Regions from separate parts of the Homo sapiens genome. Here region 1 is linked to region 2. The links come from fine-mapping of genetic effects on gene expression. A gene starts in region 2. The other region holds a variant in brackets. All regions are shown on one strand. Distances are between the middles of the regions.

Evidence for each region. PIP is the estimated chance that this variant, and not a neighbour inherited with it, causes the effect.
Region 1: its variant is fine-mapped to the expression of SECTM1 in whole blood (INTERVAL, PIP 0.97).

What each region holds. Positions count from the first base shown.
Region 1 is chr17:82,298,005-82,303,365 of GRCh38, forward strand. No RefSeq gene overlaps it. Among named protein-coding and RNA genes, the nearest start is that of LINC01970, 7.9 kb to the left of the region's middle. RefSeq lists enhancers at 1-564, 2,734-2,803, 3,004-3,083, 3,094-3,143, 3,154-3,213 and 2 more. The variant C/T (reference allele first, on the strand shown) is at 2,872.
Region 2 is chr17:82,331,058-82,336,418 of GRCh38, forward strand. SECTM1 (secreted and transmembrane 1) reads right to left here and starts at 2,709. Exons shown (of 5, transcript NM_003004.3): 1 at 2,643-2,709. RefSeq lists a silencer at 1,052-1,336 and enhancers at 1,213-2,015, 4,063-4,132.

The DNA.
Region 1 (5,361 bases), 33 kb before region 2:
CCGGGAGGGGCGAGGCTGGGGGACAGTCACGCAGGGCTGAGGCGGGCGTGTGGTGCGGGAGCGTGTGTGTGCAGGAAGCTTGTGTGCGTGCGTGTGGGGAGCGGGTCTGGTGAGGGCGCACTTGGGCCTGAGCCCCTTCCGGCCCCTCGTGTTTGCTGGAGGCTGCGTGTGCTGTGTCCCCACCCCAGATGCTTGCCCTGAGGGGCAGGTTTCCATCCAACACCCCGATTGTCTCCTTCAGTAAACCCCCGGCACCGTCTACCCGGAAGTTGTGGGCTGGGAGGGATGACATGCCCTGGGGACTGTGAGCAGTGGAACCCACGTCATTGCAAGGAAATGATCACACAAACACCAGCTCGGCAGAGTGGAACCTTTGCCAAACCTCAGAGCTGCAGCGAGCGGCTGGGCAACCTTCCTGAGGACGGCGCCCCCTCGCCCAGCTCCAAGCTCCTCCCTGTCCCCACAGGATATCCCTGGACCTGGCGGGTCACTCTAGCCAGAGCAGCCTTCCACAGTCCTCCAGGGTCAGAGCTACAGTTGAGGACCCTGTAGGTGGTAGAGGTGCCCGGGGCCGGGCTCTGGGGCTGGCAGAGGCAATGTCAGCGCCTGCCACCTGCGATGTGGCCAGGGAACTTGGGGCTGAGCAAGGGCACAGAGGGGAGAGTGTGGCATGAGGGAGAGGCGGGACCCCGCAGAGGCTCCCACACCTTCCAAGGCAGCAGAGGAGAAGGGGAGGCTGCCAACAGCCAGACCAGGGCTCCAGGGGGGCGGCAGGGGGCCCAGGGAGCTCCGGGAAATGGGACAGCCACTGTCCACCTGCAGAACGCTGGCTTAAGCCTTGCAGACGGGCCCAGTGGGCAGGGTCGTGATTTTCACTCCCGAAGGGCCTGGGGTGACAAGCCGGAGGTCTGGGAGATGGGACTGGAGACCGTGTTCAGAAGGAGGAGCTCTCCACTCTGTTGGCAAAAGCCCTGGAGCTCCAGGCATCCACAGTGACCGAATGTTGGTAAAGTCCCAGAGGACGGGACCCAGGGCATGCCCCTCACTGGACGGTGGCCTCGGGCCCTGCAGGGAGTTGAATGTGGGGTCATGAAGATGTCAGAATTGCGTCTGAAGATGTCAGAATTGCATCTGAGGAGGCAGGTGGGCACACGTGATGCAGGGACACGCCATGCACCAGGGTGGGTTCAGAGCAGCAGAAGCTCTAGGGGGCACCTACAGGTTTCTATAAAATGGGGGATTTAAGGGGCCTTGGCCTTCTGCGACTGTGGGGCTGGCTGAGGAGCATCTGGGAAGCCACGTGGGAGCTGGAGGTCACAGGGCAGGCCGGCGGGAGGGCAGCGGGGCAGGGATTTGGGCCCCATCTCCAACACTGAGCCTGGGCCGGGCACATAAAGTCCCCACAATTGCTGTGGAAAGAACCAAGTGAATGCCTAACTTCCTGCCAGCCTTCCAGGAGTAACTCAGTAAAACAAAACCAACCAACCAACAAACCCAGAAGAGGCCCGAGGTCCATGGTAAAAATTCAAGAGGTGGAAGGGGCTGGACTATGGGACCAAGGTCAGGTCTTTCTCCTTCGAGGGACCAATGGGTGGCCAGGCTCTGAGGCTGCGAGGTCCCCGACACGGTGAGGGGCACGCCTGAGTCCCGGCCTCTGCATCTCCTCAGGCACCTCCCACTTTTCTGGTGGGTTGCTATTTTCCTTTTCTTTTCTTTTCTTTTCTTTTTTTTTTTTTGAGGCGGAGTCTCACTCTGCCACACAGGCTGGAGTGCAGTGGTGCGATCTCAGCTCGCTGCAACCTCTGCCTCCTGGGTTCAAGCAATTCTCCTTGCCTCAGCCTCCTGAGTAGCTGGGATTACAGGCACTTGCCACCACGCCCAGTGAATTTTTGTATTTTTAGTAGAGACGGGGTTTCGCCATGTTGGCCAGGCTGGTCTTGAACCTCGGCCTCCCACAGTGCTGGGGTTACAGGCTGAGTCCTGCGCTGGCCAGGTTGCTATTCTCTTCTTGTGTTGTGTGCATTCCTCTTCTATTCTGTGAACAAAACCTGGTGCAGGAGACCGTCTGTGTTCCCAAGCTGTCGCCAATACTGGACTACGGATTTTTGAAGCTTACAATTTCATGGGTGCAAATTGCACTTTGCATTTCTGTAACAGTGAGTGCAGTTGGGCATTTTCACATGTATCTAAGCTGTTATCTTGTTTGAGACCGGACCGTGCATTCTTCTCTTCCTTACTGGCTTCGGGACCTCTCTGTGTGCTGAGAAGATGGGCTGCTTGCCCACTGTCCCCTGAAGTTCCACACACCGCTGACTTTGGGGTGTGAGCCCTGCTGCTCCCAACAAACCCCAGCTCTCAGGCTGGCTCTTAAAGTCCCATACTCTGGGCCGGGTACGGTGGCTCACACCTGTAATCCCACTTTGGGAGGCCGAGGCAGGCGGACCACGAGGTCAGATCAAGACCATCCTGGCCGACGTGGTGAAACCCTGTCTCTACTAAAAATACAAAATGTAGCTGGGTGTGGTGGCGCGTGCCTGTAATCCCAGCTACTCGGAAGGCTGAGGCAGGAGACTCGCTTGAACCAGGGAGTCAGAGGTTTCAGTGAGCTGAGATCATGCCATTGCAGTCCAGCCTGGCGACAGAGCGAGACTCCATCTCAAAAAAAAAACAAATCCCATACTCTGGGCTTCCTAACCCTGGACTCTCCCCAAAGCATGCAGAACGTGTGGGATGTACATTTCTCTGTGAGAGGGCGACAGCCCTGGGGGGACCTTCCCATTGGTCCATGACTGCCCAGCCGACTGGGAATTCACCTTGAGGTGCCCTGGCGGGGAGGGGGGCTCCATCTCTTGTCAAAAGTCTCTGCTACCT[C/T]TGGGCCTCAGTTTCCCCACCTGTTAGCCCAACTCCCTTCCAGGCCAGGAAGCGCTGGCAGGCGGTCTCCCACCCACGCCCCGTCCCGCCACCAGAGGGCAGGCAGTCCTTCTCGGCTGGGGCCAGCCCGGCGCAGCTGGCATTTCTCCTGCAGGATGCCATGGCCCACCGAGCTGGGAGGCCACATGCTGGAGCCGCCTGCGGGCAGTAGAGGCCTCAGAGGCAGGCCCAACCCGGGTCAGGGCAGGCCGGGGCTGGCCCAGAAGATTTCAGCAGAGAGGAGGGGTTCCAGATGGGCCTCGGGGGAGGTGTGCAGGGCGTGTGTGAAGAAAGCTGCCCCCTGGGACTCTCTCTTGCCCCCGGACGTGGAGAAGCCTCAGGCCCCACAAACCCAGATGTACCCAGAAAGGAGGTCCGGGTGGCACTGAGGTGCCAGGCTGATGGGGGAGGTCCGGGTGGCACTGAGGTGCCAGGCTGATGGGCCGAGGTGGGGAAAGGGCCAGGAGGGGTGAGCTGGGCAGGAGGGGGACCACTGAAGTGCATCCCTGGGGACCCCAGGCCACAGTGCCCTGGATGGCTGGGTGGGCAGTCGGGTTCAGCCCAGACACCAGGGAGCAGGGCCGGAGGGCACAGCAGCGCAGGCTGAGCTGAGGGCTCTCCCTGGGAGGAGGGAGAAGGTGACGCGGGCTTTCTCATCAGGGTGTTGAGGGCAGGGGCAGGGGTGGCTCATGATGGTGGGAAAGGGGCAGGGGCCTTGGAGCCCTGGGTTGGTGTGGAGAGAGGGCCCAGGCAGGGGTCCCAGCGTGCTTGAAAGCCAGCCCTGGGGTGCACACAATGTCCTTCCTGGCAGCTATGGGGACAATGTGACTGGCCACTTCGTCCGTCTTAAGGCCCCCCACTGTGCTGTCTCAAGGCCCCCCGCATGGAGTTTGGTGACCAGGACCAGGGGGTGCATGTCCTTGCTGGGGCCCCAGAGCTGGTCCCGGAGATGGCAGGAGTGCAGGGGCTTCTGGGGTGGACCCCTGCTCTCTGGCCCATGGTCCCCTAGCCCGGCAAGTGACAGCCCTCAGCAGGGAGGTTGGGGCCCACGGAGCTGGGAGAGCAGCAGGGGGCCTGTGCAGACTAGCCCGGTCCCCAGCCACCACCCCCAGGTGTGGGAAAGGCAGGCGCCTGGGGGATCTGAGGTTTCGGTCCTGCCCCGCTGAGGGTGTGGGAGGAACGGTAGAGGACTCTGAGGGTCAAGGCGGTCTCTCCTGGGAGTGCCAGGGAGGGCCTGTATCCTCTCACATCTGGGTGAGAAGGGGGCTACCCCACACGCCCTGTACTCCCTTTGCAGTCCTCTGTCTCCCCCACAGGGACCCCAGTTTCTGGGCCCCCCCTCACTGCTCTTCCTGGACCCCTCTTGTCTTCAAGGAGGGGTTGGGTGGGGCTGGCTCGCTGGGAAGCTAAGCAGCAGCTGGCACTGGGCCTCCGCTGCAGGTAGGAAGTGGTGTCTGCGCTGGTGGGAACGCGGTTTACCCGCCCACACAGGCTGCTCGGCCCTTTCTCCGAGTGTGAGGTGTGCTTGGGGAGGCCGGCGGCCGAGTGGCCAGGCCCAAGGCCTTAAAGAGAAGTGGGTCTCTTCGGCTTCCCAGGCTGGGACTTTGAAGACCAGAAAACGTGAAATTAGGACCCGCCACAAGGAGAGGGAGTTGGAAAAGCCCAGGTCCCTTTGCAGATCACCCCCTTGTACTGAGGTTTCTGAAGCTCGGGGTGAGGGCGGATGCAGGGAGCGGGGCAGCCTGGTCCCAGAGCCCGGGGTCTCAGCCAGGCAGGATCGGCAGTGACCATCTCCTGGTGCCGCCCCGGGACCTGGCTGCCAGCTGCTGCTCCTGGGAGGGAGACTGGGGAGGGTGAGGGGATGCAGCCCCCGACCTGAGCAAAACCACTTCCATGGGGCTTGGGGCCCCTCCCCAGAGAAGCCCTCTTCCAAGTCACCACCAGCGTACGGACCCAGGAGGCCTGAGGCAGGCGGGGCGTCCTCCGTCTGGGTGACCCTCTCCCGGCCTGCATTATGGGGCTGGGAGCGGCTGGGCCCAAAGCTGAAGGCGGTCTTTCGGGTGCTGAGCCTTTAGCAGGGCTGGGAAGTTCCATCCTTCATGACAGAGGCCGTCAGGGGCTGCTGGGGTAGAAACCCAGGCAGGGGTCTTATTAGGACAGGCAGTCCTGTCATGGATGGAGGAGTCCCAGGTAGCTAGGGCGCCTGCTGGAGGCCCCAGGCCAGGGGTGGGCGGTGGTTTGGAGCCCTGCTCCGGGGGTGAATTCTGTGGCAGAAGAGAGACAGAGGCAGGATGCCGCCTCCGCGACCACTGTGAGAATCAGGGAGCTCAGCCCCCAGCGGTCAGCCCCGGCCCGAGTCTCAGCTTGAGCTTGCTGAGCAGCTGGGGGCGTGGGTCTGGCCGGCTCCGCACCTCTACACCGCGGCTTTCCCTCCATGGCCACGGATGGCCA
Region 2 (5,361 bases):
TGGCGACCCTGACCCTTGTCCAGCCAGGGGTGAAGGGCGGCAAGGGATGGGCTGGAGGGTACTAGGAGCAGGTGGCGGTGCCCTTCCTGTCGGTCCACACCCGGCAAGTGGCGGGAAAGGTGTGGAATGAGTCAGCCGTGGAGGGGAGCCCTGGGCCTGGAAGACCCCTGTCTTTGGCTTGAGAATGACTTTGAAGGGCTCAGGGGGTAGGGAGCTGGGGGGAGACCGGGAGGAGAGCGGCAGGTCTGGCTCTACCCCGAGGCTTCAGGCTGCGGACCATGCGTGGCCCCAGCTCTGTCTGGGCAGCAGGTGTCAGCGACTTTGGGTTGCTGTGGGAATTTGCTCCGTTTATCAGAAGAAAACGCACCCTGGCAACACAGGCCCCTCTCAGGTCACCAGGCACATCTGGTCACATCTGAGTCTCAGATAAACAACCAATGATGTCCTGGTGAAAGCTTGTCCCGTGGGACACTCGGGACACACTTATATTAAAACACGATTAACGATCTCAAACTCAGATGTTACTGGGTATCCTGCGTTTTTGTTGGCAGCTCTGCCACTCTGCCCGTCTGCCTGAGTCCTCTCCTGCCATCCTCCTGACCAGAGGCGTGGGCTTGAGTTGAATGCCACGCAGTGGCTAAAAATCAGAGAGAGGGCAGGCGGCAGGGCGCGGCCCCAGGGAAAGTGGCCAGGTGGGCGGTGACTGGCCGGGCAGCTCCGTGTGTGGCACAGGGAGACCTGGCACAGGGAGACCAGGTACAGGGAGACGAGGCGCACGGAGCCTCAAAACTTCTAGAGTGGGCCGGGCGCGGTGGCGCATGCCTGCAATCCCAGCACTTTGGGAGGCTGAGGCAGGTGGATCACCTGAGGTCGGGAGTTTGAGACCAGTCTGAACAACGTGGTGAAACCCCGTCTCTACTAAAAATACAAAAAAATTAGCCGGGCGTGGTGGTGCACGCCTGTAATCCCAGTTACTTGGGAGGCTGAGGCAGGAGAATCGCTTGAACCAGGGAGGTGGAGGTTGTGGTGAGCCAAGATCTGGCCACTACATTCCAGCCTGGGCAACAAGAGCGAAACTCCGTCTCAAACCAAACAAAACAAAAAACAAACTTCTAGAGCGGGAAAAGATGGAGGCGGCAATCAGATTTCTCTCAAACCACGAACACAGGGGTCGGTATCTGAGGCGCCGGCACCAGACACGGCAGGGTCTGAGTGCTCCCTGACAAGCGATGATGCGCAGGCTTGGAGCCATGCCAGTGACACGCCTAGGAAAGTTCACGCACCGCCCAGCACGCCTGCGCATGCCTGTTCCCGCTCCCTGGTGCCCCGGGCGCCTGCCTGTCCCGGCTCCCATGGGTGCTGGGTGTGTGGAAGCTCCGGCCCCCTCGGGCTGGGTTCATTGGGGTCCTCCTGTGTGGTCAGTGGACTCTGTACCCCCACAGCACCTGAGGGGTGGCTGACACTGCTTTCCCAGCTGCTGCAGGGGCTCAGGGAACACAGGTGACCCCACGTCTCTACCGAGAATGAGCACACCAACACCTCTCAGAAGACAGCTGCAGCCTGCAGAGGCCATGGACCCCACCCAGGCCCACGGTGTGGACGGCTCTGCCCTGGTCTCTGCTGAGCCAGGCCCAGAGGGGACCCCAGGTGAGCAGCAAAGCCCCCCAGGCCTGGGGCTAGACCGGGCTAACCCTTCCTGCTCAGCACCTGTTCACCTGTCCCCTCTGCTGGTGGCCTCCTGTCCTCCCGCTCTGGGCTCAGCAGCAGCCCCGTGGAGAGGCCCTGCCACCACCCCCGCCCTGCTGGAGACAGGCCTCCTACGCGGGCTCCTGCAGCCGGTCGCCCTGGGCCTCCTAGAAGCCGGGGATCCTCTGCTGACCACCGGCAGAAAACGTGCTTCTCAAGCTGCAGGTGATTCACCAGTAGTGGGCAAGGAACTGAATGTGGTGATTACTGCGGAGTCAGCAAAACCCGCGTGAGAACGGGCAGCTGAGGGCCTGCCGGGTGAGGGAAGCCTCACGGTTCCTGTTTCATGAGTTTGCTGTGAGTGCACACGAGGCTGTGGCTGTGGAGTGTGCAACAGTCCACGCGTGCCTGCGTGTGCTCATGTGCGTGTGTCCACCAGCTTGTGTGCACGCATATGAGCGAGTGCGTTTTGCTCCCAGCTTGGTCGCAGCGACGGCGCAGGGAACCCCGGGTGAGGCCGAGGACCGGGAAGGGAGGAGGGGGCTCCGACCCATCGGACTTAGGGGAGCCCCGGGTCCGAGACGCCGCCTCTGTCCCTTCAAGAGTCGAGCCTGGCGCACAGGGCAGGGACGCGGGTCCCCACACCGGCCGGCAGCTCGTTCCCGCCCATACTCGGGTACGCCCGCTGCGACCCCGCCCGCCTGGCCTGCGACGCACGCTCAGGGCCAGCGGGGGGTGACGGTCCCAGAGGCAGAGGCGCCGCAGCCCCAGAGTCCCCATCCCTGCGCGGACCGGCAACCCCAGTGCACCAAGAGGCCCTAACACCGAGCCCCCAGCACCGAGTCCCCAGCACCGGGCCCTCAGCACCGAGTCCCCAGCACCGAGTCCCCAGCACCGAGTCCCCAGCACCGAGCCCGCCCCTCTGGTTCCCCCGCCCGCCCCTCTCCGCGCCTCACCGGGTCCGCTCCTGGACGCGCTCCTCTGGGATGCAGCTTCTCCGCGCCCCGGAGCCCCAGGAAAATGAAAGACACGAGAGGGAGGGGCCAGGGAGGAGGCGGCGGACCCGCGCGGGACCCACCTCCCAGATGAGGAAGGAGCTGGGTTTACGGGAAGCCTCCAAGTTTCGGGAACCACCCGCGTTCACAACAAGCGTGACGGTGAATTTATTATTTTCACGGGAGGCACCGCACCCGCGGTTCACGCTAAAGGAAGCAGGAAAGCCGCCGGGAGCATTTTTCCAGGAGAGTTCGTGCCTGGGCGGGTCCAGCTCGCGTGCGGCGCGCGTTCCCCGCGGGGCTGTTTGGCTCCGCTCCTGGAGGCCTCGAGTCTGTGCACGGGGCGAGCTGGGCGGGCCGAGTGGGCCGCGGGGAGGGAGGGCGGGGGGCGGCCCCCAGATGCCTGGGAGTGCGCGGGCAGAGTGAGCTGGACCCCCGGAGGGTCAGAGGCCCTTTCATAAAAGCGCGCAGAGCAGAGGAGTGATGTCCCCCAGCTCCCCCGCAGAGGGTCCTGCACCTGCGGCCTGGGCCTTCAGGCGTCCTGCGGCCCCTGCGGAGGTGCTGGCCTGGCCAGCCCGGGAGGAGGGGCCCAGCCTGTTGGGGCAGGAGATTGGGGTGCGGGTAGAAGGCTCCAAGACGCATCCGGGCCGGGAACCCACAGACATCCCAGGTGGGCAGGAGGTGGCTCGAGGAGGCCTGGAGGACCCGGCGCCTGGCGGGGTGGCAGGCGGGCCACGTCCTCCACTAGAACCCGAGGGGGCACGCGGGCAGGTGCGGGCGGGGTCAAGGATGACCAGGTATCTTCGGGACACTAGGAGGAGGCCCCACAGGCTGCAGTCACGTGAGTGGGCAAGTCCCCACCGGGCAGATGATGGGGGACACTGGGGCGTGGGCAATGCCCCCAGTTTCATGGAAGAGAGGAAGAAGCAGAACCAAACTCCGGGAAACCCTCAAATGTGGGGAATGGACGGAGCAGGGCCAGACTGGACGCTGAACCTTGGAGCCTGCAGCTCAGCCATCAGACCCAGGGTCCAGAGGTGGGTGGCACAGAACAAAGTCCCCCGGGATGTTCCAAAAGAGAAACTGTCGCCAAATTGGCAGGTGAAACACAGCCTGTCATCCTCCCAGCAAGACGGCACCATGGCCGGGGCACAGAGGTCAGATTCCCCAGCCCCCGCCCTCGGGGAAACCCCAGCCACCCTGGCTGCCAGTGAGATGCTGGAGAGGGGGCTGAAATCCCACCTGCCCACGTCCTCTGCACAGAGGGGCTTGTCCCCGAGGCCACATCCCCCAGCAGCCACAGCTTCCTTCTCCTTTTTTCCTGCCTACTAGATCTCTCAACTCAGAGGGGGCTGCAGTTCCTGGGGGCAGGGGGGTCCGGCTGCTTAGGCAGGAGCACCTGCACCGTGAGGCTCTGGAGGGCAGCTGAAGGCTGGCAGGCTTTTGTCCCGTGAGGGGACACCACTGGGGGTTGGAGGAAAACGCATATCCTGATAAAGCATTTCATGTTGTGAAAGTGAAACTAGTTTGTTTATTTTGGAAGTAATACAGGCACAGAAACAAAATAGAATGAAACCAACTGTTGCCTTTTCCTCCCCACCCTGGCTTCAATTCCCAGGTTGAGTTATGGACACTGCCTTACCTATCCTTCTAGAAGTTTTCCTGGTCCATACAAACAGCACAGCCATCCACTCACGTTTATTTCTTTCTTTTTTTTGAGACGGAGTCTCTGTTGCCCAGGCTGGAGTGCAGTGCTGCAGTCTCGATCACTGCAACCTCTGCCTCCCAGGTTCAACTGATTCTCCCACCTCAGCCTTCTGAGTAGTTGGGATTGCAGGCATGTATCACCACGCCCAGCTAATTTTTGTAGTTTTAGTAGAAATAGGATTTCATCATGTTGGCCAAGCTGGTCTCGAACTCCTGACCTCAGGTGGTCCGCCTGCCTTGGCCTCCCAAAGTGCTGGGGTTACAGGTGTGAGCCACCACATCTGGGCAGTATCTTTCCATTTCTTTTTTTTGTTTTGAGACGGAGTCTCGCTCTGTCGCCCAGGCTGGAGTGCAGTGGCGCAATCTCGGCTCACTGCAAGCTCTGCCTCCTGGGTTCACACCATTCTCCTGCCTCAGCCTCCTGAGTAGCTGGGACTACAGGCGCCCGCCACCACGCCCAGCTAATTTTTCTGTATTTTTAGTAGAGACGGGGTTTCACCGTGTTAGCCAGGATGGTCTGGATCTCCTGACCTTGTGATCCGCCCATCTTGGCCTCCCAAAGTGCTGGATTACAGGCGTGAGCCACTGCACCCGGCCGTATCTTTCCATTTCTATACAATGCTGGGATCAGGCATCTTAGAGCGGATGTGTGGATTCATTCACCCTCAGCCTGTCCTTGAATCACAGCCTCTGCTGTGCCAGGTGACATGTGGAGTTTCATTTCCTTTCTGTTCGAGGAATTTGTAGATTTCAGTTATGATTTTCTGTTTAACTCTCCAAATTATTCGGCAGCATATTCTTAAAATCCCCAAGGTCCTGGAGCATTTGCTTTTCTTTTTTTTGGAGACAGAGTCTTGCTCTGTCGCCCAGGCTGGAGTGCAGTGGTGCGATTTCGGCTCACTGCAACCTCCGCCTCCCTAGTTCAAGCGATTCTCCTACCTCAGCCTCCTGAGTAGCTGGAACTACAGGCACG